Homo sapiens: one gene and its partners. The protein of the gene in region 4 purifies or fractionates together with the protein of the main gene of each other region. This does not show direct contact. Each region holds a gene or a part of one and is shown on either strand. Other genes may lie near its edges. The genes, in order: CTCF, YBX2, YTHDC2, ZNF346, ELAVL2, BRIX1 and ZNF512.

Region 1 (3,500 bases), on a different chromosome or scaffold from region 4:
TTAAACCAGGGAAGTGGTGGTTGCAGTGAGCCGAGATCGCGCCACTCTACTCCAGCCTGGGTGACAGAGTGAAACTCCGTCTCTCACACAAAGCACACAAGCACACATACACACAAAGAAGTCTCAGAGTTGGGCCAGGTGTGGTGGCTCACACCTGTAATCCTAGCATATTGGGAGGCTGAGGTGGGTGGATTGCTTGAGTCCAGGAGTACGAGACCAGCCTGGGCAACATAGTGAAACCCTGTCTCTACCAAAAGCTAAAAAAAAAAATTAGCTGGTCATCGTGGCATGTGCCTGTGGTCCTAGCTACCAGGGAGGCTGAGGTGGGAGGATTCCTTGAGCCTGGTCGATGCTGCAGTGAGCCAAGACTGAGCCACCGAACTCCAGCCTGGGCAACAGAGCAAGACAGTCTCCAGTAAAAAACAAAAACAAAAACAAAAACCTTGGAGTTAAGGCCAGTGAGAGAAAAAAAGGTTAAAATAAGAGAAAGTTTAAAGAAGTAAGAGGAAGAAGAAAACCAACAGGATTTAGTGTCACAGAGGCCAAGGGAAGAAAGTGTTTCAAAGGAAGAGGGTACTGTCAACGATGAAGAACACTGCTAACAGATCAAGTCATCTCTTAGGAAGAAGAGTGGAAAGGAGTCTTCACTACATTCAGAGAGTGGGGTCATTCATGACCTTAAGCAACAGTCATTATACCAGAGTGATGGGGAATAAGCCAGACAAGAGGGAAAGATGAGGGGGAGAAGACTGTGAGGGATGTTAACTCTTCATAAAGGCTGGCTGGGAAGGAGAGAAGAGTTAAACCTAGAGGGTGAAGACATACATATATATAAAAATACATATATATATGAATACATATATATATACACACATATATACACACACACACATATATATACACACACATACACACACACACACACACACACACACACACACACACACACACACATATATAATTTTTTTTTTTTTTTTTGAGACAGTGTCTCACTCTCTTGCCCAGGCTGGAGTGCCGTGGCGCGATCTCCGCTCACTGCAACCTCCCCCTCCCGGATTGAAGCAATTCTCCTGCCTCAGCCTCCCAAGTACCTGGGACTACAGGCATGTGCCACCACACCCGGCTAATTTTTGTATTTTTAGTAGAGATGGGGTTTCACTGTGTTAGCCAGGATGGTCTTCATCTCCTGACCTTGTGATCCGCCCATCTCAGCCTCCCAAAGTGCTGGGATTAGAGGCGTGAGCCACCGTGCCCGGCTATATTTTTATTTATTTTAAGAGACGGGGTCTTGCTATATCACACAGGTTGGTCTAGAACTCCTGGCCCATCCTCCTGAATAGCTGAAACTACAGGTGTGAGCCACTGTGTCTGGCTAAGATTCTTTTTTTTTTTTGAGATGGGGTCTCTCTGTCACCCAAGCTGGAGTGCAGTGGCACGATCTCGGCTCGTTGCAACCTCTACCTCTTAAGCTCAAGTGATCCTCCCACCACAGCCTCCTGAGTAGCTGGAACCAAGGGTGCACCTCACCACAACCGTTTTGTATTTTTGGTAGAGATGGAGTTTTGCCATGTTGCCCAGGCTGCTCCGGAACTCCTAAGCTCAAATGATCCACCCACCTTGGCCTCCCAAAGTGCTGGGATTACAGGCGTGAGCCACTGCGCCTGGCCCTTTGTCTTTATTTTTTAAGTAGGAAGAGAAGTCATTTACTGAGACCAAGAGGGGAGAGAAAAAAGAAGGAAAATTAGAGGTTATAAGAAAATAGGAGTAGGGGATCTGGTGTAGCAGCTCTCGCCTGTAATCCCAACACTTTGGGAGGCCAATGAGGGCAGATCACTTGAGGTCAGGAGTTCGAGAGCAGCCTGGCCAACATGGTGAAACCCTGTCTCTACTAAAAATACAAAAATTAGCCATGGGCGGGCACCTGTAGTCCCAGCCACTTGGGAGGCTGAGGCAGGAGAAGAGCTTGAACCCAGGAGGCGGAGGTTGCAGTGAACAGAGATCAGGCCACTGCACTCTGGCCTGGGTGACAAGTGCAAAACTTTGTCACAAAAAAAAGCAAGTGAGGGCTGGGCGCGGTGGCTCATGTCTGTAATCCCAGCACTTTGGGAGGCCGAGGTAGGCAGATCACCTGAGGTCAGGAGTTCAAGACCAGCCTGGCCAACATGGTGAAACCCCATCTCTACTAAAAAATACAAAAAAAAAAAAAAAAAAAAATTTAGCCGGGCATGGTGGTATGCGCCTATAATCTCAGCTACTCAGGAGGCTGAGGCAGGAGAATCACTTGAACCTGGGAGGCACAGGTGGCAGTGAGCTGAGTTCATGCCATCATACTCCAGCCTGGGTGACGAGAGGAAAACTCCATCTCAAAAAAAAAAAAAAAAAAAGTAAGAGTAGGTTGCCCAACTCTATATAAGCACCAAACACTGTGGAATGAATTCGCTCACTCATAAAGAACTGGAGCACACCTGACAAGAACAAACAGCTGGAACAGCTAGGAGCAGTGAGGGCCCAGCTACATTTGGGATCATGAATTTATGTATTTACGGTACTACAAGTTGTATCAACTGAGGTGATATCCCACTAAACTTAAAGAGAGCTAATTATTGGGAGTAGATATGAGGTAAGGGAGAGGATGGCTCTCACTTTTTACTCGTTACCTTTTTTTTTTTTGAGACAGAGTCGCGCTCTGTCACCCAGGCTGGAGTGCGGTGGCGTGATCTCTGCTCACTGCAAGCTCCACCTCCCAGGTTCACGCCATTCTCCTGCCTCAGCCTCCCGAGTAGCTGGGACTACAGGCGCCCACCACCATGCCCAGTTAATTTTTTGTATTTTTAGTAGAGACAGGGTTTCACCATGTTAGCCAGAATGGTCTCGATCGCCTGACCTCGTGATCCACCCGCGTTGGCCTCCCAAAGTGCTGGGATTACAGGTGTGAGCTGCCGCGCCCGGCCTACACTAAATATTATTAATAAACTCCGGCTGCATGTAAACTCTAGTTTAACTATGCACAGAAATACAGTTACCACTAAACCAATAAAACAGTCCCATTACCTAGAGAAAGTACAGACGTTCTCAAAAAAATACAATAGAATGACCTGAGTTTGAATCACACTATGTTACTTTCCTATTTGGGGAAGGAAGGCTACTAATTAAAGGTGTACTCTGTCTCCTCCCATCACAGCTCCCATTAATTTATAGATGAGTTTTACTCAGGACAGAATCTTGTGGCCTGACTACAGTAAGAAAAGGAAGAAATAGAAAAAAAAAAAAAAAAAAAGCAGCTAAGCAATGGCTTTTACTAAACTAAGTGACAGGCCATTCCTATACATAAAATGTTATGAGAGTCAGAAGGTGAAGTTATTTTTGATCCCCATATTTCGAAATATAAATCCTTCAAAATATTTTTTTCACTTCTCACTAGTTAATCTACTTACCCAAATCACTTTTTCGGGCTATGACTGTGTCACAGTGGGGACAGTGAAATTTGGCCACATTTTCTG
Region 2 (4,499 bases), on a different chromosome or scaffold from region 4:
TAGCTTTCTGAGGGGAAGAACCGGCCGTCTTTGAAGGCCTTTGCTGTAATCCTTAGCAGTGCGCTCCGCCATGTTTCTCTGGCTCTTCTTCACAACGGCCCATCCGCCTTGGGTGCCTGTGTCAACCACCATTAGCCGCACTTGTGCTGGGTTACTAAACGTCCGTCAGAATTGAGCATGTTACCCCTGGGCATGGCACGCTTACTACCCACCGGGACCTGTTAACACTCCAGGAAGCACTGAGGCAGTTTTCAGAGGGAGAAGGTCCTTGGGTGCAGTGGTTCTCAAAGCGTGGCCCCTGCACCAGCGGCAGCAGCATCACCTGACATCCGAATTCTCAGGTCCCACCCCAGACCTGGTGAATCAATCAGAGCTGGGGCTGGGGCTCCACAATCGGTTTAACGAGCTCTCCAGGTGATTCTGATGCACGCTACAGCTTGAGAACCACTGCTTGGTGGAAAGAGCTCTCACTGGGACTGAGGTAAGAAGCACAGTGCATTCTACCCACTTTGCGACTGAAGGCTGTCCCTGCCTTTTGCTTTGGAGTTCATATTTCTTGCCTCCCTTTCTGAAATCCCTGAGGGGTAAAGCGGGGCGGGAGGGGAGGTGCGGGGAGTGCATCCTGGGGATGGTGGTAACTGCACAATCTGCTGAGGCCCTGAGTTCAGGACTTTTCCCCTGCTAAACTTTGACCACCTCCTTGCTCCACCCTCCAGCTCTAGACCCCAAGTCAAATGTTGAAAGAATGAAATTGGGTGGTGGCCCCAGCAGGGGTGACAGAGACTCCTGTCTTGCTGTCTCACTTTTCACATGGCCTTTTCCCCAATCAGACAGCTATTAAAAGAAACAACCCCAGGAAGTTTCTGCGCAGCGTTGGAGATGGGGAGACTGTGGAATTTGATGTCGTGGAAGGAGAGAAGGTTTGGGGACTGCTATGGGGTATAGAGTTGACTAGGCTTACGGGAGGGTGGCCTGGAGGTCATCACAGGCTAAGACCCTCCTGGGGCCAGCTCTGACCCGTTCTGCGGGAATGGGACTGTGTTCTCTCACCCTGATGTCCTCTTCCTTAATGCTAGGGCTAAGGGATGTCCTAAGTATGTCCCTGTCATCGGTCGGCAGTGTCTGGGTTTCTTCTCTAGTTCACCAAGCACTTCGACATCCGTTCTCCACGTGGGGCCCTGTCCTAGACTTCCCGAGTCCGCCTCTGGAGTAAAAAGGTGGATGCTGGCTGCCAGGCCTTTCTCCACCCAGTCGTATACTCAGGAGGGTGCAGTAGCAATTATTTCAAAAGGACATGTTGCTCCTTCCCAAATGGGTGCAAGCACATTCCACTGCCTCTCCAGGGAGGGTAGAAAGAAGTTAGAGGAGCTAAAGGAAAGCTGGAGAGGGGTCTTCCCCTGAAAGAAGGGGAAGCAAGTTGGGAAATGCACATTGGCTGTTGGAGCAGGTTCTCACTATTCCCTTACCACCTTCCCAGGGCGCAGAAGCCACTAATGTAACTGGGCCTGGGGGAGTACCCGTGAAGGGCAGCCGTTATGCCCCCAACCGACGTAAGTCCCGCCGATTCATCCCCCGGCCTCCCTCAGTTGCCCCACCACCCATGGTGGCAGAGATCCCCTCGGCGGGGACAGGACCTGGCAGTAAAGGGGAGCGGGCTGAAGACTCTGGGCAACGGCCCCGACGATGGTGCCCCCCACCCTTCTTCTACCGACGGCGGTTTGTGCGAGGCCCCCGGCCTCCCAACCAGCAGCAGCCTATAGAGGTGAGGGGATGCTGGAATATGGGAGCCAGTTCCCCAAGTTCAGGAGAGGAGTGGGAGTTAGGATAGAGACCATGGGTCCCCAAAGAAGGAGGAACTGAGGGTTGGGCAGAGCTGTGGATAATCTGGCTCCAGAGCAGCTGCTGTCCCCACAGCTCACCGGGGCCTTTGCATGTTCCCAGGGCACTGACAGGGTAGAACCCAAAGAGACAGCCCCATTGGAGGGGCACCAACAGCAGGGAGATGAGCGAGTCCCCCCGCCCAGATTCCGGCCCAGGTACCGAAGGTAAGACCCCCCTGCTGGGGCTTGGTCTTCCCCTTCCAGTGTTGGATCCTTGGGGCAAGGGACAGGAGGATGGAAGGGTGAAGCTCTAGGCAGAGCCTGGGCTCCTGGCGAGACAGGTGCCTTGCGGGGAGGCAGTGCTCATGGGCTGGAAGCCTGGCTCCTGGAGGTGGGGTGGGGCAGCTGGGTGAGCCCTGGGGAGGGAGTATTCCCTGGTCCCCTCAGAGCCTTGTTCCTTGCCTTAGGCCTTTCCGCCCCAGGCCACGCCAGCAGCCTACCACAGAAGGTGGGGATGGTGAGACCAAGCCCAGCCAAGGTCCCGCTGATGGTTCCCGGCCTGAGCCCCAGCGCCCACGAAACCGCCCCTACTTCCAGCGGAGACGGCAGCAGGCCCCTGGCCCCCAGCAGGCCCCTGGCCCCCGGCAGCCCGCAGCCCCTGAGGTGAGGACCTCAGATGTGGGATGAAAGAAAAGGCTGAGACCAGCTCCCTCCCCCACCTGCTCCTTTTTCTTTCCTACTCTATCCTTTGGCTCCTCCCCTCCCCTGCCCTGGCCCTGCCACCACCCTCTTCCATGCAGCCTGCTGGGTCCCCCCCTGGCAGGTGCCGCCTCCCACCAGGAAGCCCCCACAGAGGCAATCAAGCCCATGATTGCCCATGATGGCCATGCCCCCCCCAACCCATCCCCCACTTGCTGCCTGGAGCCATCCTACCAGCTTGTAGATGTGAACTGAGGGGTGTGATTGAGGTTTTAATGGGAAGGGAAAAAGTGAAAGAAGGTTGAAGTTCAGGGCCCTGAAGAACAAGTCTCAGCCCTGCGCGATGTCTCATGCCTGTAATCCCAGCACTTTGGGAGGCAGAAGCAGGCAGATCAGTTGGGGTCAGGAGTTCAAGACCAGCCTGACCAACATGGAGAAACCCCGTCTCTACTAAAGATACAAAAATTAGCCAGGCGTGGTAGCACATGCCTGTAATCCCAGCTACTTGGGAGGCTAAGGCAGGAGAATCACTTGAACTGGGAGGGGGAGTTTGCAGTGAGCCAAGATCACGCCACTGTACTCCATCCAACCTGGAGTGAGACTCTGTCTCAAAAACAAAAAGAACAAGTCTCAATTGGCCACCGCTGTTCTTTAGACCTCAGCCCCTGTCAACAGTGGGGACCCCACCACCACCATCCTGGAGTGATTCCAACTCAACTCAGAGGACACCCAGAGCTGCCATCTGGTGAGTGGCTGGTGCAGTTGGGTGGGTGGCCAGGAAGGTGAGGTACTGGGTGGCGATGACAAGTCGCTGTTGTTCACAATCCGTCCATTTCCTTTTCTCTCTCAGGTATCTGCCAGTTTTTCCAAATGACCTGTACCCTACCCAGTACCCTGCTCCCCCTTTCCCATAATTCATGACATCAAAACACCAGCTTTTCACCTTTTCCTTGAGACTCAGGAGGACCAAAGCAGCAGCCTTTTGCTTTTTCTTTTTTCTTCCCTCCCCTTATCAAGGGTTGAAGGAAGGGAGCCATCCTTACTGTTCAGAGACAGCAACTCCCTCCCGTAACTCAGGCTGAGAAGGAACCAGCCAGCTCTTACCTCCTCCTGGTTGCTTTTCTTGCCCCCACCCCAAGTTTATTTTTGTTTTCCCCCGGCCCCCTACCTCTGAAGCCATTTTATGATCTGTCATGTGCCACCTGAGCCTCCAGTAAAAACAAAAACAGGCTTTCCTGTGGTCTTGGTCTCCATCTCTTCTGTTTTGGAGAATCGCTAGTAACTCACTGTTGAAGGTGGGGAGGAGGGGATGTGGGGCCGTGGGCAGGGCCTGGCATCCTTGCTGCCATGTCTCCAGCTGTGTCCCTGGTGAAGAGTGCCCCTATCATGGGTTTCACTGCCCATCTGTGACATGGGCTGACACCTCCCTCACAGAGTGAGTATTCTGCAAATGCCAAGAGCAATGCCCGGCACTGGCAGCTACAATTTATTGAGCATTTACTATTAATAAAGCAACGAGTAGAAATGTGAGTAGGGGCATGAGCAATGGCATCCAGAAGATTCTGAGGCCTTGAGCTGAGGCAGGACAGAGGGAGGAAGAGGGGTGAAGAGTTATGGTCCCTGTCTCAGCCCATCCTCAAGTACCTCCACAATAGGATGCTTGTCTTCAGCAGTGACTTTATAGAAGTATCTATATATATACATTTAGTACAACCGACCTTTGGTTTCTTCTCTCAATCCCCTTTTCAAACGTATATAAAAATATCCAAAGGCTCCTCCCAGCCCAGTGTTTCCAGGCAGCCTTTCAAATCCCCTCTTTGCCTTAGTTGGTCAAAAGCCTGTGGATGCAGCACCCTTCCAGGAAGGGAGAGGAAGAAAGTTAGGGCTCCTTCTTGGCAGCCTTGGGAAACCATCGGGGTAGAGCCCCAAGCCTAGAGGCGGGAGCCTGCCGTCCTTCCATCTTGCCACACATGGGCACAT
Region 3 (4,122 bases), about 63 Mb from region 4:
GCAAAGCCACACATAGGCTCAAAAGAAAGGGATGGAGGAAAATTTACCAAGCAAATGGAAAACAGAAAAAGGCAGTGGTTGCAATCCTAGTTTCTGATAAAACAGACTTTAAACCATAAAGATCAAAGAAAGGCATTACACAGTGGTAAAGGGCTCAATTCAACAAAAAGAACTCATGATCCTAAATATATATGCAAGCTAATACAGGAGCACCCAGATTCATTAAACAAGTTCTTAGAGACCTACAAAGAGATTTAGACTCCCATACAATAATAGTGGGAGACTTTAACACCCCACAGACAACATTAGACAGATCATCAAGACAGAAAATTAACAAAGATATTCAGGACCTGAACTCAGCTCTGGATCAAGTGGACCTGATAGATATCTACAGAACTCTCTACCCAAAAACAAGAGAATATACATTCTTCTCATCGCCACATGGCATTTATTCTAAAATTGATCACATAACTGGAAGTAAAACACTCCTCAGTAAATGTAAAAGAAGTAAAATCATAACAGTCTATCAGACCACAGCACAATCAAATTAGAACTCAAGACTAAGACATTCACTCAATACCACACAACTACATGGAAACTGAACAACCTGCTCCTGAATGACTCTTGGGTAAATAACAAAATTAAGGCAGAAATCAAGAAGTTATTTGAAAGTAATGAGAACAAAGAGACAATGTACCACAATCTCTGGGACACAGCTAAAGTAGTGTTAAGACGGAAATTCATAGCACTAAATGAACACATCAGAAAGCTAGAAAGATTTCAAGTTAACCACCTAACATCTCAATTTAAAAAATTAGAGAACAAAGAGAAAACAAACCCAAGCTAGCAGAAGACATGAAATAACTAATATCAGAGCAGAAGTGAAGGCGATAGAGACAGGAAAAACCCTCCAAAAAAATCAGCAAATCAAAAAGCTGGTTCTTTTTAAAAATCAATAAAACAGACTGCTAGCTAGATTAATAAAGAAGAAAAGAGAGAAGAATCAAATAGACACAATAAAAATGATACAAGGGATCTCACCACTGACCCCATGGGAATACAAACTACCATCAAAGGATACTATAAACACCTCTATGCAAATAAACTAGAAAATCTAGAAGAAAGAGGTAGATTCCTGGACACATACATACTCCTGAGACTGAACCAGAAAGAAGCTGAATCCCTGAATAGACCAATAACAAGTTTGGAAATTGAGGCAGTAATAAAGAGCCTACCAACCAAAAAAGCCCAACCAGATGGATTTACAGCTGAATTCTACCAGAAGTACATAGAAGAGCTGATACCCTTTCTTTTGAAACTATTCCAAACAACTGAAAAGGAGGGACTCCTCCATAACTCATACTGTAAGACCAGCATCATACTGATACCAAAGCCTGACAGAGATACAACAAAAAAGAAAACTTCAGGCCAATATCCCTGATGAATATCAGTGCAAAAATTCTCAATAAAATATGGGCAAACCAAATACAGCAGCACATCTAAATGCTTGTCCACCACAATCAAGTTGGCTTCATCCCTGGGATGCAAGGCTGGTTCAACATATGCAAATCAATAAACATAATTCATCACATAAACAGATCTAAAGACAAAAACCAAATGATTATCTCAATAGATGCAGAAAAGGCCTTCAATAAAATTCAACATGTCTTCGTGTTAAAAACTCAATAAACTAGGTAGTAAAGGAACATATCTCAAAATAATAAGAGCTATTTATGACAAACCCACAGCCAGTATCATACTGAATGGGCAAAAGCAGGAAGCATTCTCCTTGAAAACTGTCACAGTACAAGGATGTCCTCTCTCATCACTCTTATTCAACATAGGATTGGAAGTTCAGGCCAAGGAAATCAGGCCAGAGAAAAAAATGAAGAGTATTCACGTCGGGTGGGTGCAGTGGCTCATGCCTATAATCCCAGCACATTGGGAGGCCGAGGTGGTAGATCACTTGAAGTCAGGAGTTTGAGACCTGCCTGGCCAACATGGTGAAATGCCAAATCTACTAAAAATACAAAAAAAATTAGTGGAGTATGGTGGCAGACGTCTGTAATCCCAGCTACTCCGGAGGCTGAGGCAGCAGAATTGCTTGAACCCAGAAGGCGGAGGTTGCAGTGAGCTGAGATCACACCGCTGCACTCCAACCTGGGCGGCAAAGTGAGACTCCATCTCAAAATAAAGAAATAAAGAGTATTCAAATAGGAAAAGAGGAAGTCAAATTATCTTTGTTTGTAGTTGATATGATCTACATCTAGAAAACCCATTATCTCAGTCCAAAAGCTTCTTAAGCTGATAAGCAACTTCAGCAAAGTCTCAGGATATAAAATCAATGTGCAAAAATTGCTAGCATTCCTATATACCAACAACAGGCAAGCAGAGAGCCAAATCATGAATGAATTCACATTCACAATTGCAACAAAAATAAAATACATAGGAAAAGGCCAAGCATGATAGCTCACGCCTGTAATTGCAGCACTTTGGGAGGCCAAGGCAGGCAGATGGATCACCTTGAGGTCTGGAGTTCAAGATCACCCTGCCCAACATGGTGAGACCCTGTCTCTAGTAAAAATACAAAAATTAGCCAGGAATTGTGGTGCGTGCCTGTAATCCCAGCTACTCAGGAGTCTCAGGCAGGAGAATTGCTTGAACCCAGGAGGCGGAGGTTACAGTGAGCTGAGATTGTGCCACTGCACTCCAGCCTGGGTGACAGAGCAAGACTCCATCTCAAAAAAATGAAATAAAATAAAATAAAGTAAAATAAAATACCTAGGAATACAGCTAATAAGGGAAGTGAAGGACCTCTTCAAGGAGAACTACGTATCACTGCTCAAAGAAATCAGAGAGGACATAAACAAATGGAAAAACGTTCCATGCTCATGGATAGGAACAATCAATATCATGAAAATGGCCATACTGCCCAGAGAAATTTACAGATTCAATGCTATTCCCATTATACTGACAGTCTTCACAGACTTAGAAGAAACGATTTCAAAATTCTTATGGAACCAAAAGAGACCATATAGCCAAGACAATCCTAAGCAAAAAGAACAAAGCTGAGGCATCACGCTACCCGACTTCAAGCTATACTACAGGGCTACAGTAGCCAAGACAGCATGGTACTGGTATAAGAACAAACACATAGAATGATGGAACAGAATAGAGAACTCAGAAATAAGACCACACACTTACAACCGTCTGATTTTTAACAAACCTGACAAAAACAAGCAATGAGGAAAGGACTCCTTATTTAACAAATGGTGCTGAAAGAACTGGTTAGCTATATGCAGAAAACTGAAACTGGGCCCCTTCCTAACACCTTCGACAAAAATTAACTCAAGATGGATTAAAGACTTAAATGTAAAACTCTAAACCATAAAAACCCTCGAAGAAAATCTAGGCAATACCATTCAGGACATAGGCACAGGCAAAGATTTCATGATAAAAACGCCAAAAGCAATTGCAGCAAAAGCAAAAATTGACAAATGGGATCTAATTAAACTAAAGTTTCTGCACAGCAAAAGAAACAACTATCATCAGAGGAAACAGACAACCTACAGAATGGGAGAAAATTTTTGCAATCTATCCATCTGACAAAGGTCTAATATCCAGAGTATACAAGGAACTTAAGCAAATTTACAAGAAAAAACAACCCATTAAAAAGTGGGCAAAGGACACGAACAGACACTTTTCAAAAGATGTACATGTGGCCAACAAACATATGAAAAAAAGCTCAACGTCACTGATCATTACTGGAATGCAATTCAAAACCACAATGAGATCAGAATTGCTATTATTAAAAAGTCAAAAAACAACATGCTGGTGAGGTTGTAGAGAAAAAGGAACACTTTTACACTACTGTGTAATTAAATTACACTAGTGTAAATTAATTCAACCACCATGGGAGACAGCATGGTGATTCTTCAAAGACCTGGAGGCAGAAATACCATTTCTGGGTAAATACCCAAAGGAATATAAATCATTCTATTATAAAGATAAGTACATTTGTATGTTCAGTGCAGCATTATTCACAATAGTAAAGACATGGAATCAACCCAAATGCCCATCAATGGTAGGCTAGATAAAGAAAATATGGTACATATACACCAT
Region 4 (4,122 bases):
CCAGGGCATCGACTTTTTTTTTTTTAAGACAGGGGCTTGCTCTGTTATCCAGGCTGGAGTACAGTGGCACTAACATGGCTTGCCATAGCCTTGACCTCCTGAGCTCAAGCAATCCTTCTGTCTCTGTCTCAGCCTTAGCCTCCCATGAAGCTGGAACCACAGGCATGTGCCACCACCCCCGGCTAGTTTTTGGTTTGTTGGTGTGTTTGTTTCTATGTAGAGACAGAGTCTCACCATCTTGCCCAGGCTGGTCTCAAACTCCTGGGCTCAACCCATCCTCCCACCTCAGCCTCCCAAAATGCTGGGATTACAGGTGTGAGCCACTGTGCCTAGCCTTGACCACTTTTTGGCTGAGACCAGGAGATTAAAAATGTGGGCCTGCCCTCCTCTCCCAGTTTTAGACTCTGCCTCTGCCTCTGCCTCACATTGCCAGCGCCATGATAGAACTCATGCCTTGGCCGGGCGCGGTGGCTCACGCCTGTAATCCCAGCACTTTGGAAGGCCAAGGTGGGTGGATCACGAGGTCAGGAGATCGAGACCATCCTGGCTAACACGATGAAACCCCGTCTCTACTAAAAATACAAAAAAATTAGTTGGGCGTGGTGGTGGGTGCCTGTAATCCCAACTACTCGGGAGGCTGAGGCAGGAGAATGGTGTGAACTTGGGAGGCGGAGCTTGCAGTGAGCCGACATCATGCCACTGCACTCCAGCCTGGGTGACAGAGCGAGACTCCCTCTCAAAAAAAAAAAAAACAAACAAAAATGAACTTATGCCTTGGGAGAGATTTTACCTCCTCTTCTCTTCTCAAAAAGGTAAGACTGTTCTCCAGGCACAATAATTTAAGCACAGGTTAATACCATGTTTCATATAGTGTGGCACTTATATAATACGTTATGTGATTTTATTTTATTTATTTATTTAGAGACAGAGTCTAGCTCTGTCACCCAAGTTGGAGTTAGTGGCACAACCTCAGCTCACTACAACCTCTGCCTCCTGGGTTCAAACAATTCTCCTGCCTCAGCCTCCCGAGTAGCTGGGATTATAGGTGCCTGCCACCACACCTGGCTAATTTTTGTATTTTTAGTAGAGACAGGGTTTCACCATGTTGGCCAGGCTGGTCTCGAACTCCTGATCTCAGGTGATCTGCCCACCTCGGCCTCCCAAAGTGCTAGGATTACAGGCGTGAGCCACCACGCCCCACCCTGTTATGTGATTTTAAATGTTTCAAAGTCAGATCAAGAACAATGAGAAAAGTATTCCTTTTTCGAGTCTTTCAGTCCTCCTGATTCTATCTGGGAAGAAGTTTCAGTTGGGTGCTACCATATCTTAAAACCTCTCAGCACAGTTGCTGTTCTCTTCTTCCTGGGGAATGCTCCAAGCCTCATTTTTATCATATTTATTTTTATTGGTATCTGCTTAAGTTTATGATCTAAAGATTCCTTTTTAAAAGAAGTTCCTAAGTAAAGAAAGTTGGCATACATAAAATTATAAAATAAGTAATAGTGTAGGTGGTGTGAGAACACAGCATGAGTCACGGTGGCAGTAGGAAAGGCTGGCTGAGGTCTGCCAGTGTCCTAGTATGGCATCCCATCATTCAGTGCCTGTGTTTGAGGCAGGGTTCAAAGGCAGTGCTGTTGAGGTAGTGTTTGTCAACTCAATGATTTCTTGTTTTCCCCTCTATAGTGGAGCACATGATCCAGAAGAACCAATGTCTCTTCACCAACACCCAGTGTAAGGTTTGCTGCGCCTTGCTTATTTCTGAGTCCCAGAAGCTGGCACATTACCAGGTATGCCATCATACTTTTAGAACTGCGTTTCTTTTCAGACCTGGTGCCAAACCACTAATTCTCTCTGGCTTGCATGGTGAAGTGTAATTGCTGCTTAGCCACCCAGATGTTGCCTCCATGCATGTTGGCTTGTGACTTGAAGATTGACTTAATCTCCTTGAGTCTCATCTCCCCCATCCAAATCAGGATCATTATATGTGTATCTTCCCTTGCAGCTTGGCATAGCATAAAGTATGAGCTTTGGCTTTAAATAGATCTGACTTTAAATCAAAACTCTGCTACTCATCTTGAGCAAGAAACTTCATCATTTTTAGATGTAGTTTCCTCATCCATAAAATAGAAATGGTCATAATTTTCTCATAGATTGTGAAGATTAAATTTGGTAGCTGTAAAATGCCTTGCACAGAGCAGGAACTCAAACTTCCCTCACCTCCTCCTCAAAACTTTTTGTGAGGATGAATCAGATGAAAATCTCATAAGTGTTTTTGAGTGCCTTAAGTATGAAGTAGCATTTGGCTATCTTTGATCTTTCTCCTGGGTTTTTGCAGAGCAAAAAACATGCCAACAAAGTGAAGAGATACCTAGCAATCCATGGAATGGAGACATTAAAGGGGGAAACGAAGAAGCTAGACTCAGATCAGGTAATACAGCTGCCATATTGAGCCCACTTGCTTCATGATGAAGCCAGCCAGCAGGTTGGTGTGGTGAACAAGTCAGACTGTCTTGGCTTCAAATCCTGGCCCTGTTGTGTGACTCGGGCAAGTCTATTACTTCACAAAGCCTTGATTTCTTCCTCTATAAAAATGAGGATGGTAATATCAACTACCTTTCAGGATTTTTTAGAACTAAAATTGAGGGCAGATTTATAAAAAGCACCCAATTCAGAGCCTGGCACATAGTAGGGACTCAGTAATGGAGCTGGTATTACATATTACCGCCTAGTGGTTTGTTAGAGCAAGACAAGAGAAAATGGAAAGAAGCCAGGCTGCTTGCTTTCTTGAGGGCCAAGGAAAAGAACTAAGTTCAGCACTTGAATGTTTTGCATAAATAAGCAGAAGGAACACCTTTCCAAATGTCTGCTGTGATTGAGAGGTGATCACATGTGCTTTTTGGCTCAGAAATAATATGAGCATTATGCTGAAGCAACCCCCAATCCCTCAGGAGTACCATCTCATCATGGGAAGAGAAGTTAAGCAGACTAGGGCTCAAAGCTGGCTGTGTGTCTTACTGATCGGGTGAGTTTGGCCAAGTCACTTAACCTCTGTGAACTTCCCCCATAAAGTAGAGATAATGCCTACTTCTTAAGGGTATTGTGAGGTAAAATTTCAATTCCTAGTAGATGCTCAATAAATAAGAGTTTACTCTATAGACTGCTACCTCCTATTATAGTAGCCACAGGTCAGGAAGGTCCTTGTTTATCTCTTCTCAAAATTTACTGGACTCATCCCCTGGTTTCCCTTATTATTTATTTATTTATCCCTGGTTTCCCTCCTTTCTATTTCTCTATCTGTCTATTTGTGAGACAGGACCTGGCTCTGTTACCCAGGCTGGAGTGCAGTGGTGCAGTCACGGCTCACTGCAGCCTCAACCTCCCAAGCTCAAGTGATCCTCCCACTTCAACCTCCCAAGTAGCTAGGACTACAGGCACACACCACCACGCCTGGCTAACTGGAGTGCAGTGGCACGATCTCAGCTCACTGCAACCTCCACCTCCTGGGTTCAGGCGATTCCCCTGCCTCAGCCTCTGAAGTAGCTGGGACTACAGGCACGCGCCACCACACCCAGCTAATTTTTGTATTTTTAGTAGAGATAGGGTTTCACCAGGTTGGCCAGGCTGGTCTCAAACCTCTGATCTCAAGTGATCTGCCTGCCTCAGCCTCCCAAAGTGCTGGGATTACAAGTGTGAGCCACTGCGCCCAGCCGCCTGGCTGATTTTTTAAAAAATTTTTCGTAGAGACAGGGTCTCGCTTTGTTGCCCAGGCTGGTCTCAAATTCCTGGTCTCAAGTGATCCTCCCACCTCAGGCTCCCAAAGTACCAGGATTACAGGTATGAGCCACCACACCTGGCCCTTTTCTCACAATTTATAATTCAGAAAGGCAAGATAAACTCTATGACCCTGGGCAAGTTATTTTACATATTTGCACCCTATTCAGAGATCAGGCTTTCTGAGAGAGATGCTGGGATCCCTTTATGTAGTCTTGAAATACATGGTTTCCTAGCCTAATCATAATCAACAAGTAGAACGCAATGGGAGGCTGGGTGCGGTGGCTCATACCTGTAATCCTAGCAATTTAGGTGGCTGAGGCAGGCGGATTGCTTGAGCTTGGGAATTCG
Region 5 (4,122 bases), on a different chromosome or scaffold from region 4:
TTTTACTTATATTTAATAGATGCACTGAACCCAGTACCTTCTCAGTCCTGTGTATCACCTGCCTCCCTGGGGGAAGACTGAGCAATCATCGAAGGGGAGAGGCGGCGAGTGGCACTCTCTCCTGCTCTTTAGCCTGAACAAAATCCATTTTACAAATAACACAGCAAGCAGATATGGAGGATTAGACTGGATAACCTGCTTTAATTAAAATGACCTCCATTTAAAGAAAAAGTAACTTAAAAAAAGATTACTACAAATGTAAATCAGAGTAAAGAATGGTACCAGTAAGGGAAATACAAGTAAATAAGGAAAGGGAGAGCCGATTATTTCTCCTACTCTTAGTACAAGCTACATTATAAGGTTAGACACAAGATAATCCAACATGCATCACATGAAGTCAGATGAGATATCTGAAATTATTTTATGGTCTTGCTTTAAAAGACATTTATTAAGATATTAGGTACATGGAAAATGAAGCCAACCAGTATAGTAATTAGCAAGACATTTAATACAGATTGTCTCATCTTTATCCTTTTTTATGTTTGATTAGAGTTTATAATTTAATGAATAGCACACGCCCATGTACATATGTAATTTATGAAAAAGGCACATAGGAGAGAGATGTGTATAAACATTTTTCTATCAACAGGACCAAAGCTCCAATTATAACCTGTCAAAATTTTGAACAGAACCATGTATCAGATCATTCCTATTTTAAAGCTAGGTGTTCATAAGTAGAAAATAAAAATAAAGTACCTGCCTAATTTCTAAAAAAATTAGCTGATGGACTATGGGAAGGCCTACATGTAAGTAAGGGGAAATGTGAACCCGATTAAAGTCAGAAATAAAAATAGGAAGATAAGTTATTGATGGGTAAGAAAATATACTCGGAATCCCACAAATAATGATTATCAAAATCTCTCCAAAGCGCCAACCGAGAACTGCTTGGAAATTATCTACAACAAGATCATCTTCTTACTGCCTTACTGCCTTATTCAATTAGATGGTATCATCTGTCCTCTAAGAAAGAGGAAAAGTATTCAAGGGGATTGATACCGGTTTCTTCCAAAAGGAAATTGTGATAATGCAACCAGTACGTCATGCCTTAAAGGCAACTCAAGTGCTCATTTAAAAGGCTTTTTAAAAAATGCATAAAGGCTCATAGAAGCAGGCACACAGGTCATTACACTAGATCATATTCAATAAAATTATAGCTGTTTCACAGAAAAGAACATGAAAAAATTTGGCTTAAAGTTTAATTCTGATATCATGTCCCAAGAATATACTTAAGGGGCTTGAATTACACCATCCATCCAAATAAATAAGGCTTGTCCTATTTTGAAAACTGCAGTCAATTAAATAAGCGTATTAGACCAGCAGTGCTCATATTACAACAATTCTCTGATTATTCATAGATTGACTAAGCCATAAACCTCACAAACCCACCTTTAAACTTAACCCTTATTACATGGATTTTTAAGCTTTTTGACCATAAAAGATATGGCTCATACTTTATGATTATTAAAAGTATTCTTGACCATAATACATATAACTTATATTGCTCAATCTCTCTCAACTCCCAAGGTACTATGAGAACATAAAAATACAGTGAGAAATTTTCTACATGTCTGCTGAAAGGTGACAAAAACTCAAGGCAAGAGCATTAAAACACAAATATCAGGGACAAAATATATCTGTGTGATGATTTAGACTCGAACTACAGAAAACAGCAAAATACCAACAAAACAAGCAAGCCCTTAATTCAAGTTTCTTTATCAGGTGAAAGAAGAAGGGGGAGTGGGGCGGAAATCAAGATAATGACAACCAGGTTCAATATACTGTATTAAAGAAAAGCATCAAACATCAGGTTAAACCTGAAATCTGATTTCTTCCAACACACCCAATCTAGATCAAACACTATCTCTGAGCACACTAACTCGTTCATATTTTATTATCTGGACAGGGATCATGGGAGGAATGAGAAATGGGGTGAATGGGACAACAGTTAAAAATCTGAAGAGAGAATAACAATTTCTCCCATTTTCTGAAACCAAGTTTCCCTTACAACTGACAATCTCTTATTCTCTTCTTCCAAAATGTCTTTCTATAGGAGTGAAGGAAAAAGAATTTTCAAGTTAATGATAACATATGGTACTAAAAGATAAAAACACAGAATGGGCCAGAAAAAGATAATTAAATTTGACCATAAGAACATCCTGTAAAGCTTTACTCAACCAAAAATAAAAAGCACAGAGCCTGCAGGGATGGAGGCTAGGTAAACCTAAGGGCTGACACCCATCAACAACCTAGCACCTGAGTCACCTACAAGCCTTGCCATTTCAATAATCAGGCACTCTCCCAAATCCTGTCTTCTCAATCTTCCTAAGAATTCAATCTTGATTCCAAGAACTTTGTTTTACTTAATAACTATCAAACAAAATCATTGCTTCAATCTGGAAAAAAAAAGTAGCTAATATAGCTTTCCACTAACAGCAAACATTTTATAACTTCACAATGTTAAAAATCAACCAATACATTATGAAGAACTTTGTTCTATCTAAACTCGAGATCATTTTCAAGGCCCCAAAGAGCTCTGAAATTAACTGGACAAGCTGCCTAGGAAATACCTGTAAAATTCCTTCAGGCTTGTTCATCCTACGTTTGCAATTTAAAAAAGTATATTTATACATATATTATTCACTTAAGATGTCACAGAGGAAACCTATGTGCAGAGCTGAAAAAGGGCTTTCTTTGTGAGACTTCTTTCTCCACAAAGGCAAGCATCAGGCAGCCCCACGCATCTCCCACACTAGTCTGATCACCACTACCATGGGAAGTCAAAGGTGGCAAAGGTTTTTTTTTTTTTTTTTTTTTTTTTTTTTTTTTTTTTTTTAATACCAATGCCTTTTCCTCACAGCAGAGCATGAAGTACAAGGCTCAATGCTTTTGACAGTACCACCTCTTCTCCCACGGCAAAGGCCAACTTAAGTTGAAATTTAATGTGGCATTCATAACAAATTTCCTTCTCATATCTCAAGCAACATAATTTAGTATTTTTTTAAAAGGAGCTATTTTTAACTGATTTTATCTCCACTCTCTTCAGCACTGCAAATATTCCAATGAAAAAAATAAATGCATAGATTTAAGCTAGAAAACATAACTCCTGATCTTATTAGGTTATATTTGTGATTATATTTTTGGTAATTAACTATTCTGTCCCATGAATGAAATAAATAAAATTGATATGCACTTGGAAATAATTTTTAAAAATCAGTGTGGGGTTAGATAGCATTCTGGGTATAGTGTACCATATGGCCAAAAAGGATATTTAAAAATGTCCTGGAAAATAAAAACTGCATGACTTGCTTATGAAACCAAAAACTCTCTGCTCTGCTTAACTTCTTAAAGTCACTGTTCTTCTCACATGCAGATTAGAGATTTTTTGAATGACTCCTGGTTTGTTATCCCAGGATCAGAATAAAACTTAAACAGTTAGCATATGTACACCTGTCAGTGAGATAGAGTGTCTTCTTTGGGCTAAAGCCACGGTCATTCTATGAACTACAGAGAGGTCAGTAAATTACAACCGACAGGCCAAATGGAGACTGCCTCCCACCTGTTGCTGTATGGGCTATAAGCTAAGAATGGCTTTTACATTTTTAACAGGTTGTTTAAAAACAAAAACAAGACAGATGCAACAGTGACCATAACCCATAAAGTTAAATATTTACTATCTGGTACTGTACAGAGAAAGTCTGCCAACCTGTTTGTAAACAATTTTGAAAAGGAAGAGAGGAACTCATTTGTAGAAACTTCACGTAGTCACATAGGTTATATACCCTTAATGGTGCACATACTATAAAGTGAAGTAACAGAAACAGCTTGACCTAAAAATTGACACATGAGAATAAAATCCTTTAAGAAAAAAAAAAAAGGAAATCTGAAGCCCTGGAAACAATTCAGATAACCCCAGAAAGCTACAGATTAGAATTTCTCAACCACAGCATTATTGGTGCTTTGGACCAGGTAACTTCTGGTTGCTGGGGCTATGCTGTACACTGTAGGAGCTTAGCAGCATCCCCGACCTCTAGCATTACATGCTAGTAGCACCCCCACAGGTTG
Region 6 (4,122 bases), about 140 Mb from region 4:
TACAAAGTGCTTTCAACACAGCCATTAATGCATTTGATTCTCAAAACCTCAACATTTTAATATACTCTTTTTTGAAGTGACAGATCAGGGGTTGGTTCTTCCATGGCTTCATTAACTGATGACTGAGTAAACTTCAGTGAGATGCCTTCCTTTCTACCAGTCTACTCCTACTTTACCATCCACAACCGATGCTCTTGAAGTGTTGAATGCTTTTACAAATAATATGACCTAATAAATGTCTGAATTTCAGCTTTGCTAAACCAAAAATTCCAACCCAAGAGAACAGGCTACATTAAGTGTGCTACATTTTTAGCAACACAAACTTCAAAAAGAAATCAGAAATTAACTGATGAATTCTGGTGATATTTTATTTAGAAAAAGATAATCACTGATTTTAAGATCTTAATTTTTCTTTCTTGTAAATGCTACACTAATTAGACGTAAGATAGTATTAGATAATAAAAGTATTTACACATTGAATACAAAATAAATATAAAGTAACTGAAAAACAAATCAGGTTTCCATTGACTTATTTTGTTTTCCCACTGTCCATCCTCTGTTTCATTTTTCTTTGCCTTTTGTAAATCCGTTTCTTTCTTGCTTTCAAATCAACTTTTGGCTCTGGTTTTACCCACTGTATTTCTATTGGTTTCTCCTCAGCTGGTGTTACAAAAACATCTGCAGTGGGATCATGTGGAAGAAGAGTCTTCGGCTCTTTCTTTCTCAGTTTTTGCACATCTTTCACTTGCTGTTTCTCTCTGTATTTTGCAGCTGTGATGGATCTTATGACACGCCGATGCTAAAAAAAAAAAAAAAAGATTAGATGCTTTTGAAATAAAAATAAACATTTTATATAAGGCAAAGACTTTCAGTTATGAACCATATATCCTTTCAGCCAGTGTCATGAAAAAAGGGAGTAATTTCCAAGTTTCTATGCAGCAAAAACCAAATTCAGTTTCACAGGTAATAAAACAGCAATTACTTCACAGAATCATTTTGGCCAAAGGGTTCTGGTACATTGAAGACTACTGAATGACACAACCGCTTACCATGTTTGGTGACTGGTAGTGAGGATTTTCATATAAAGTTGGTCCTCCAAAACTTCCCTGGAAAATCTTTATGAGATTTAAGACAAAACGAGGTCCTATTTCTACAAGAGCAGCATCTTCTTCTATGATCTTTAATAAAAAGGAAACATTTCATTTTGGTTTGGTTACGTTATTCCCAAAAGGTATACTGGCTATAACCTCATTATAAATGTGCCTGAAATAATTGATAATCCATAAAATCAAGGTGGGGGTGAAACTTGGTAAATGGCAAATCATCAATATTTTCTGAAATCTATTAGTACTTATAGGAAGTTGTCATGGAAAAATGTTTTTTCAGTGAGTTCTTTTAAAATTGAGTAATTAGATTTTGGTTCACATCTTGCTTGTCACAATGCATATATCCTTGAAAAACTGGTTAAACAGGATTTTAAAACAGTAACCACTATTAACAAAATGTATTAAAGCACATTATGGGGGAACTCTTGAAACTTAAATCAATCCCTAAATTGTTTTTATAAATCTAATTCAAGTTAGATTAAAAGGATATGTAGTCAAATTTATTTAATAGCTACTGATTATGGAATTAAAAGGCAACTTCCGAACAACAAATATTTATGTTATCTATTAGTTCAGGCATGTCTACCCTCAGAGGTTAGGATGATGTGTTCAACTCACATGCCAGGTATCCAATATAAAATATGCAGAAAAGAGCTCAGTTTATGTCATATACTGTCTAAAATTTTGTTCTTGCTGTTCTCTTCCACCTCTTCATCTTTCTGCACTTATCGTGCCAAACTCCTGCTTCAAGATTTCTAGAGTCACCTCCTCTTTTCTCCTGAATGAGTCACTGTGTGACTCATCATCTAACCGCTGCCATTGAATGCCTTCTAGAGCAATTACATTTTGCTAGGTCTTAACCTTTGAGGTGCTTTGAGAGAGAAACTTCTAAGCTTTGAGAGAGAAACTTCTATTTTACTGTATCCTTTACAGCACTTTCTACAAATTAGGAACCCAAGTATCTCATGGATCTTCAAGTTATTCCCTTTCTATAAAGTTAAATATATAATGGCTTATTAGGAAATCCATACTCTGTATCAACTAACAGTCATGAATAGAAGTAGGTAGAGCTCACTTAAGATATAAGACAGTACATAGTTACTTGCAGCAATCTCTTTAGGGAAAAGGAAGCTATTTAAAACAAAAGAATTATTTGCATTTTTTGTGTATGCAAACCCTGTATATCCTTATCTAAAAGTTTAACTAAAAATTGACCAGGCACAGTGGCTCACAACTGCAATCCCACCTACTCAAGATGCTGAGGAGGAATGATTTGAGGCCAGGAGGTTCAAGGCCAACCTAGGCAACACTGCGACACTCTATCTCTAAAAAAAAAAATTAGGCCGGGTGTAGTGGCTCACGCCTGGAATCCCAGCACTTTGGGAGGCCAAGGCGGGCAGATGGCCTGAGGTCAGGAGTTTGAGACCAGCCTGGCCAACATGGCGAAACCCCGTCTCTACTAAAACTACAAAAATTAGCCAGGCGTGATGATGGGTGCTTGTAATCCCAGCTACTCAGGAGACTGAGGGAGCAGAAGCTTGAACCCGGGAGGTGGAGGTTGCAGTGAGCCAAGATTGTGCCACTGCAGTCCAGCCTGGGCAACAAGAGCGAGACTCTGTCTCAAAACATAAATAAATAAACTCAATTAAAAAAAAGGTATAATTAAAAATCAAGTAAAGCTTACCTGAAAGTTCCGAAACCATATCCTATTATCCAAAATGGTGAAAGTAAACACGTGGTCCACAAATGGTTGGCTTTTGGGATGATACCGTGGTGTACTAAAGATCTAGTTAAAAAAGTGTATGTTAGTTCCTTATTCCAAGATATATCATGTATATTTTGGATAGCTAATTTTAAAGATATTTACCTGAATTAAGAGTTCTTTTAACAAAGCATAATGTGGTAATTCATCAAAAGCCTATAAAAATAAGGTAAGCATATTATTTAACAGTAGACTGCCTTGTTTAAAACTGTTTGCTCATTTGTTTCTATAACTTGGCTATAACCTCATTATAAATGTACCTGAAAGAATTGATAATCCATAAAACCAAGGTGGGGGTGAAACTAAATTGAATAACACAACTATATCTACTAAAAACAACCATGCCAGATAAGAAAATTAGACCTCATACACTGAATGAGAAACTTACAGGGTCAAAAGACAAAAGGGGCCGAGAACCTTTCAAACAGTTTCCAGTCATCTTCAGTTCAGCGAGGGTATGAACTAGAAAAATTACAACAAAAACAAAAATAGTTGTAACTTTTGCACAACTATTTCAAAAGATTACTTTTAATTTCCTCATCTAAAAAAATTTATTGAGTCAACTTACTATTTTGAACAAGGAATTTAGCAGATGGTCCGTGAGGTGAATTTGAAAGCCTGAAAGATATGGAGTAAGCTTTTTCAACTAATTAGCAAATGTAGTCAATGCTTACCACCTATTCACCATAAATAATATGCTTATAATATTTATACATTTAATTTTCTTTAAAGGTATCAAGTTTCGTGAAATCAAAAGTTTGCTTCATTCTCAACCCTTAACATGAAACACTAGGAGTCTATAACATAAAAGGTACAAAGAACAAATCCACTTAAATGAGTTTAACCAAAATCTTAATACATTCTCTTACCACATATAGAGATCCTGTTTTTTCTTAGCTTCAAAATAGATGCATTTATTACAGTTCTTCATTTCACAAACCTAAAGGAAGCAAAGTATAGGAAAATGAAGTAGATAATATAAATGAGAACTAAAGTAATTATATGTGATTAATATCATCCAGATTATCTCAAAAATACCTAACCAGGCTAATAGGCTACAAAGGCCTAAACATGTATTTATTCACAGAAGGAACCTTTAAAGTTCCTCTTAGGTATTCTACCCAAGGTAAACTAGATGCTCTGCCCATATCTTGGGTGAAATTATCTATCATATTTTTGGGCCTAGCATCTAAAATGGTCTCACTTCTGATTACTGGAAACCTCCCTCCTTTTTTTTTTTTTTTTTTTTGCGAT
Region 7 (4,122 bases), on a different chromosome or scaffold from region 4:
CCTCCTGAGTAGCTGAGACCACAAGTGTGTGCCACGGTACCCAGCTCATTCTTTTGTGTGTGTGTGTGTGTGTGTGTGTGTGTGTGTGTGTGTGTGTGTGTGTGTAGAGACAGGGTCTCACTTTGTTGTCCAGGCTGGTATCAAACTCCTGGGCTCAAGCAATCTTCCTACCTCAGCCTCCCAAACTGCTGGGATTACAGGCATGAGCCACGGTACCCAACCAAGACACATCTTAACGAAACTATTCAGCCAGGAAGGGGAGGGGAGACATGAGGGAGTGAAGAGAGGAAAAAAAGAAAAAGAATATAAATGTATCAGCCAGGCGTGGTGGCTCACGCCTGTAATCCCAGCACTTTGGGAGGCTGAGGCAGGTGGATCACCTGAGGTCAGGAGTTCACGACCAGCTTGACCAACATGGAGAAACCCCGTCACTACTAAAAATACAAAATTAGCTGGGCATGGTGGCACATGCCTATAATCCCAGCTACTCAGTAGGCTGAAGCAGAAGAATCGCTTGCACCTGGGAGGCAGAGGTTGTGGTGAGCCAAGATCGCGCCATTTGCACTCCAGCCTGGGCAACAAGAGCGAAACTCTGTCTCAAACAAAAAAAAAAAAAAAAAAAAAAAAAAAAAAGGTAAACATGGTAAATTATATGGGTATACTTTAACTCAATAAAAAATAAACTAGGCCAGGCATGGTGGCTCACACCTGTAATCCCAGCACTTTGGGAGGCCAAGGCAGGCAGATCACTTGAGGTCAGGAGTTGGAGACCAGCCTGGCCAATATTGTGAAACCCCACCTCTACTAAAATACAAAAATTAGCTGGGTGTGGTAGCGGGTGCCTGTAGTCCCAGCTACTTGGGAGGCTGAGACAGGAGAATCACTTGAATCTGGGAGGTGGAGGATGCAGTGAGCCGAGATCATGCCACTGCACTCCAGCTGCCCTGGGCTACAGAGCGAGACTCCATCTCAAAAAAAAAATAAAAATAAATAAATAAATAAAAAAACTAAGCTGGGTGCAATGGCTCAAGCCTGTAATCCCAGCACTTTAGGAGGCTGAGGCAGGCAGATCCCTTGAGCCCAGGAATTCAAGAACAGCCTGGGCAACATGGCAAAATCCTACCTCTATTAAAAATACAAAAAATTAGCCAGGTGTGGTGGTGTGCACCTGTAGTCCCAGCTACTCAGCAGGCTGAAGTGGGAGAATCACCTGAGCCCAGGAGGATGAGGCTGCAGTGAGCAGAGGTTGCGCCACTGCATTCCAGCCTGGGCAACGGGAGTTAGGCTCTGTCTCAAAAAAATTGTTTAAATAAATAAGAAACTATTCAAAGCCAAAGATTTTGTTTTAAACTAGAAAGCTTCAGAAAAGTGACATATTACATTACAGGAAATGATTTAAATGACCATGGGTTTCTCAACAGAAACCAAGAATGCCACAAGGCAGTACAGTATCTTTAAAATCGAACCAGTGTAATGGCTCACATTTGTAATCCCAGTACTTTGGGAGGCCAAGGCAGGGGGACTGAGCCCATGAGTTCAAGACCAGCCTGGGCAACATAGCAAGACCTTGTCTCTACAAAAAATAATTTTAAGGCTGGGCGCGGTGACTCGCGCCTGTAATCCCGACACTTTGGGAGGCCGAGGTGGGCAGATCACAAGGGCAAGAGATCAAGACCATCCTGGCCAACATGGTGAAACCCCATCTCTACTAAAAATACAAAAGCTGGGCGTGGTAGCATGCGCCTGTAGTCCCAGCTACTCGGGAGGCTGAGGCAGGAGAAATGCTTGAACCCGGGAGGCGGAGGTTGCAGTGAGCCAAGATACACCACTGTGCTCCAGCCTGGTGACAGAGCGAGACTCTGTCTCAAAATAATAATAATAATAATTTTAAGAACTTAATTGTACATTTTTAAATAACTAAAAGAGTGTAATTGGATTGTCTATAACACAAAGGATAAATGCTTGAGGGGATGGATATCCCATTCCCCATGATGTGATTTCACATTGTATGCCTGTATCAAAACATCTCATGTACCACATAAATATATATCCTTACTATGTACCCACAAAAATAAAAATAAAAAAATTTTAAAGCAATTATCCAGGTGTGGTGCCATGCAACTATAGTCCCAGCTACTTGGGAGGCTAAAGTGAGAGGATCCCTTGAGCTGAGGAATTTGAGGCTTCAGTGAGCTATGACCGCACCACTGCGCTTCAGCCTTGGCAACAGAGTGAGACCCTGTCTCTAAAAAGAAAAAAGAAAAGGAAAAAGAAATATCTTTAAAATTTTGAGAGAAAAAATTTGTCAACTCAGAATTCTATATTCAGTGAAAATATCCTAAGAAATAAAACTAAGAGAATTCATTGTAAGCAGACCTGCTCCATATGAAATGCTAAAACAAATGATTCCAGCTGAAGAAAAATAATACCAGAGAGAAACTTGGATTTTTAAGAATGAAGAAAGAGCAACAGAAATGGTAAACAGGCCGGGGTAGATGGCTCACACCTCTGTAATCTCAGCTACTTGGGAGGCTGAGGTGGGAGGATCACTTCAGCCCAGCAAGCAATGAATGTGCCACCAACTCCAGCCTGGGCAACAGAGCAAGACACTGTCTCTTAAAAAAACAAGAGTAGGGGCAGACACTAAGCATTCAAATAATCCAAAAGAAGAAACACAGGAACAAAAAACAATGGATAAACAGAGAACAAAAAATAAAAGGGCAGACCTATCCAACCATATCAATAATTAATTTAAATGTTTACAGTCTAAACACTCCAGTTAAAAGTCAGCAAATGACAGAGTAAAATAAAAAGTGATACCCTACTACATGCTACCTACAAGAAGCACACTCTAAAATATAAAGACATCTATAGATTGAAAATAAACAGATGAAAAAATTGTATCATACAATCAGCAAACATAAGGCTGGAATGACTATTTTAATATCAGATAAAACAGACTTCAAGACAAAGAGTACTGCCAGAGATAAAAAGAGACACTTCATAATGACAAAAGTGTCAAATCATTGGGAAGGCATAATTACCCACTGTATGTGCCTAATAATAGAGCCTCAAAATACACAAAGCGAAAACTGACAAAATTAAAGGGAAAAATAGACAATTCCACAATCTTAGCAGAAAATTTAAGACCTCCCCCTTTCAGCAACTGATAGAACTAGATAAAAATTCAGTAAAAGACATAAATGATCTGAACTGCACTATTAGCCACCTTGCTCTAGTTAACATTTACACAACACTACATCTAACAACTGCAGGATATATATTCTTTTCAAGTGCACATTATGCATTCATTAAGCTAGATCTTACGCTGGGCCATCAACTTTAACTTTTATTAAAAGGATGAGAATTACACAGTGTATTCTCTGACCACATTGGTATCAACTTAGGAGTCAATAATAGGAAGATATCTAAAAACAAAAAACACAAAAAATCCAAATATCTGCAAATTAAATAATCTACTTCTAAATAATTCATAGGTCCAAAATGAAATCACAAATGAAATTTGAAAATATTTTGCACTGAAAAACAACAAAAATATGCATATCAACATTTGTAGGATGCAACTAAAGCAATACTTAGAAACTTAAAGCTTTAAATGCTTATACTAGAAACGATCTAAAATCAATGACTTAAGATTTCATCTTAAGATACCTTAAAAGGAAAAGCAAAGTAAACCAAAGAAAAGGTAAGGTAAGAGGAGAAACCCATGAACTAGAAAACAGACAATAGGGGAAATGTGGTTCTTTGAAATGATCACAAAATTGACAACCCTGTAGCTAGACTTAGACTGATCTACAAAAAAAGACACTACAAATAGCCAATATCACAAATGAAAAAGGGGTTACCGCAGATTATGTAGACATTAAGTAATAATATACTTTGAATAACTTTATGCTAATCAATGGAAAAATTACAATGAACAAATTTCTTTAAAAATACTACTTACCAAAACTGACACAAGAAGAAACTGGAAATCTAAGTAGCCCTATATCTATTAAATAAACTGAATTTATGAAATCCTTCCCACAGTGAAAACTACAGGCCCATGTAGTTTCACTGCTGAATGCCATTGCAATAGGTTTAAAACAAGATCAAAAGGAA

The links.
Region 1: the proteins of ZNF346 (region 4) and CTCF purify together in Homo sapiens (co-immunoprecipitation; 2 studies listed by BioGRID and IntAct, with this or other methods). This does not show direct contact.
Region 2: the proteins of ZNF346 (region 4) and YBX2 purify together in Homo sapiens (co-immunoprecipitation; 2 studies listed by BioGRID and IntAct, with this or other methods). This does not show direct contact.
Region 3: the proteins of ZNF346 (region 4) and YTHDC2 purify together in Homo sapiens (co-immunoprecipitation; 2 studies listed by BioGRID and IntAct, with this or other methods). This does not show direct contact.
Region 5: the proteins of ZNF346 (region 4) and ELAVL2 purify together in Homo sapiens (affinity purification with mass spectrometry; 2 studies listed by BioGRID and IntAct, with this or other methods). This does not show direct contact.
Region 6: the proteins of ZNF346 (region 4) and BRIX1 purify together in Homo sapiens (affinity purification with mass spectrometry; 2 studies listed by BioGRID and IntAct, with this or other methods). This does not show direct contact.
Region 7: the proteins of ZNF346 (region 4) and ZNF512 purify together in Homo sapiens (affinity purification with mass spectrometry; 2 studies listed by BioGRID and IntAct, with this or other methods). This does not show direct contact.

Annotation. Positions count from the first base shown.
Region 1 is NC_000016.10:67,621,526-67,625,025, reverse strand, and holds part of CTCF (transcriptional repressor CTCF), read right to left. Parts: coding exon 3,435-3,500; intron 1-3,434.
Region 2 is NC_000017.11:7,287,514-7,292,012, reverse strand, and holds the end of YBX2 (Y-box-binding protein 2), read left to right. Parts: intron 1-436; coding exon of another isoform or gene 437-481; intron 482-830; coding exon 831-920; intron 921-1,477; coding exon 1,478-1,762; intron 1,763-1,941; coding exon 1,942-2,045; intron 2,046-2,287; coding exon 2,288-2,483; intron 2,484-3,174; coding exon 3,175-3,225; 3' UTR 3,226-3,264; intron 3,265-3,369; 3' UTR 3,370-3,750; downstream 3,751-4,499. UniProt on the Homo sapiens protein: Major constituent of messenger ribonucleoprotein particles (mRNPs). Involved in the regulation of the stability and/or translation of germ cell mRNAs. Binds to Y-box consensus promoter element.
Region 3 is NC_000005.10:113,568,734-113,572,855, reverse strand, and holds part of YTHDC2 (3'-5' RNA helicase YTHDC2), read right to left. Parts: intron 1-4,122. UniProt on the Homo sapiens protein: 3'-5' RNA helicase that plays a key role in the male and female germline by promoting transition from mitotic to meiotic divisions in stem cells.
Region 4 is NC_000005.10:177,039,443-177,043,564, forward strand, and holds part of ZNF346 (zinc finger protein 346), read left to right. Parts: intron 1-1,683; coding exon 1,684-1,787; intron 1,788-2,335; coding exon 2,336-2,428; intron 2,429-4,122.
Region 5 is NC_000009.12:23,696,960-23,701,081, forward strand, and holds part of ELAVL2 (ELAV-like protein 2), read right to left. Parts: intron 1-4,122.
Region 6 is NC_000005.10:34,921,903-34,926,024, reverse strand, and holds the end of BRIX1 (ribosome biogenesis protein BRX1 homolog), read right to left. Parts: intron 3,809-4,122; coding exon 3,738-3,808; intron 3,487-3,737; coding exon 3,437-3,486; intron 3,331-3,436; coding exon 3,257-3,330; intron 3,025-3,256; coding exon 2,974-3,024; intron 2,893-2,973; coding exon 2,791-2,892; intron 1,179-2,790; coding exon 1,050-1,178; intron 800-1,049; coding exon 530-799; 3' UTR 29-529; downstream 1-28. UniProt on the Homo sapiens protein: Required for biogenesis of the 60S ribosomal subunit.
Region 7 is NC_000002.12:27,589,179-27,593,300, reverse strand, and holds part of ZNF512 (zinc finger protein 512), read right to left. Parts: intron 1-4,122. UniProt on the Homo sapiens protein: May be involved in transcriptional regulation.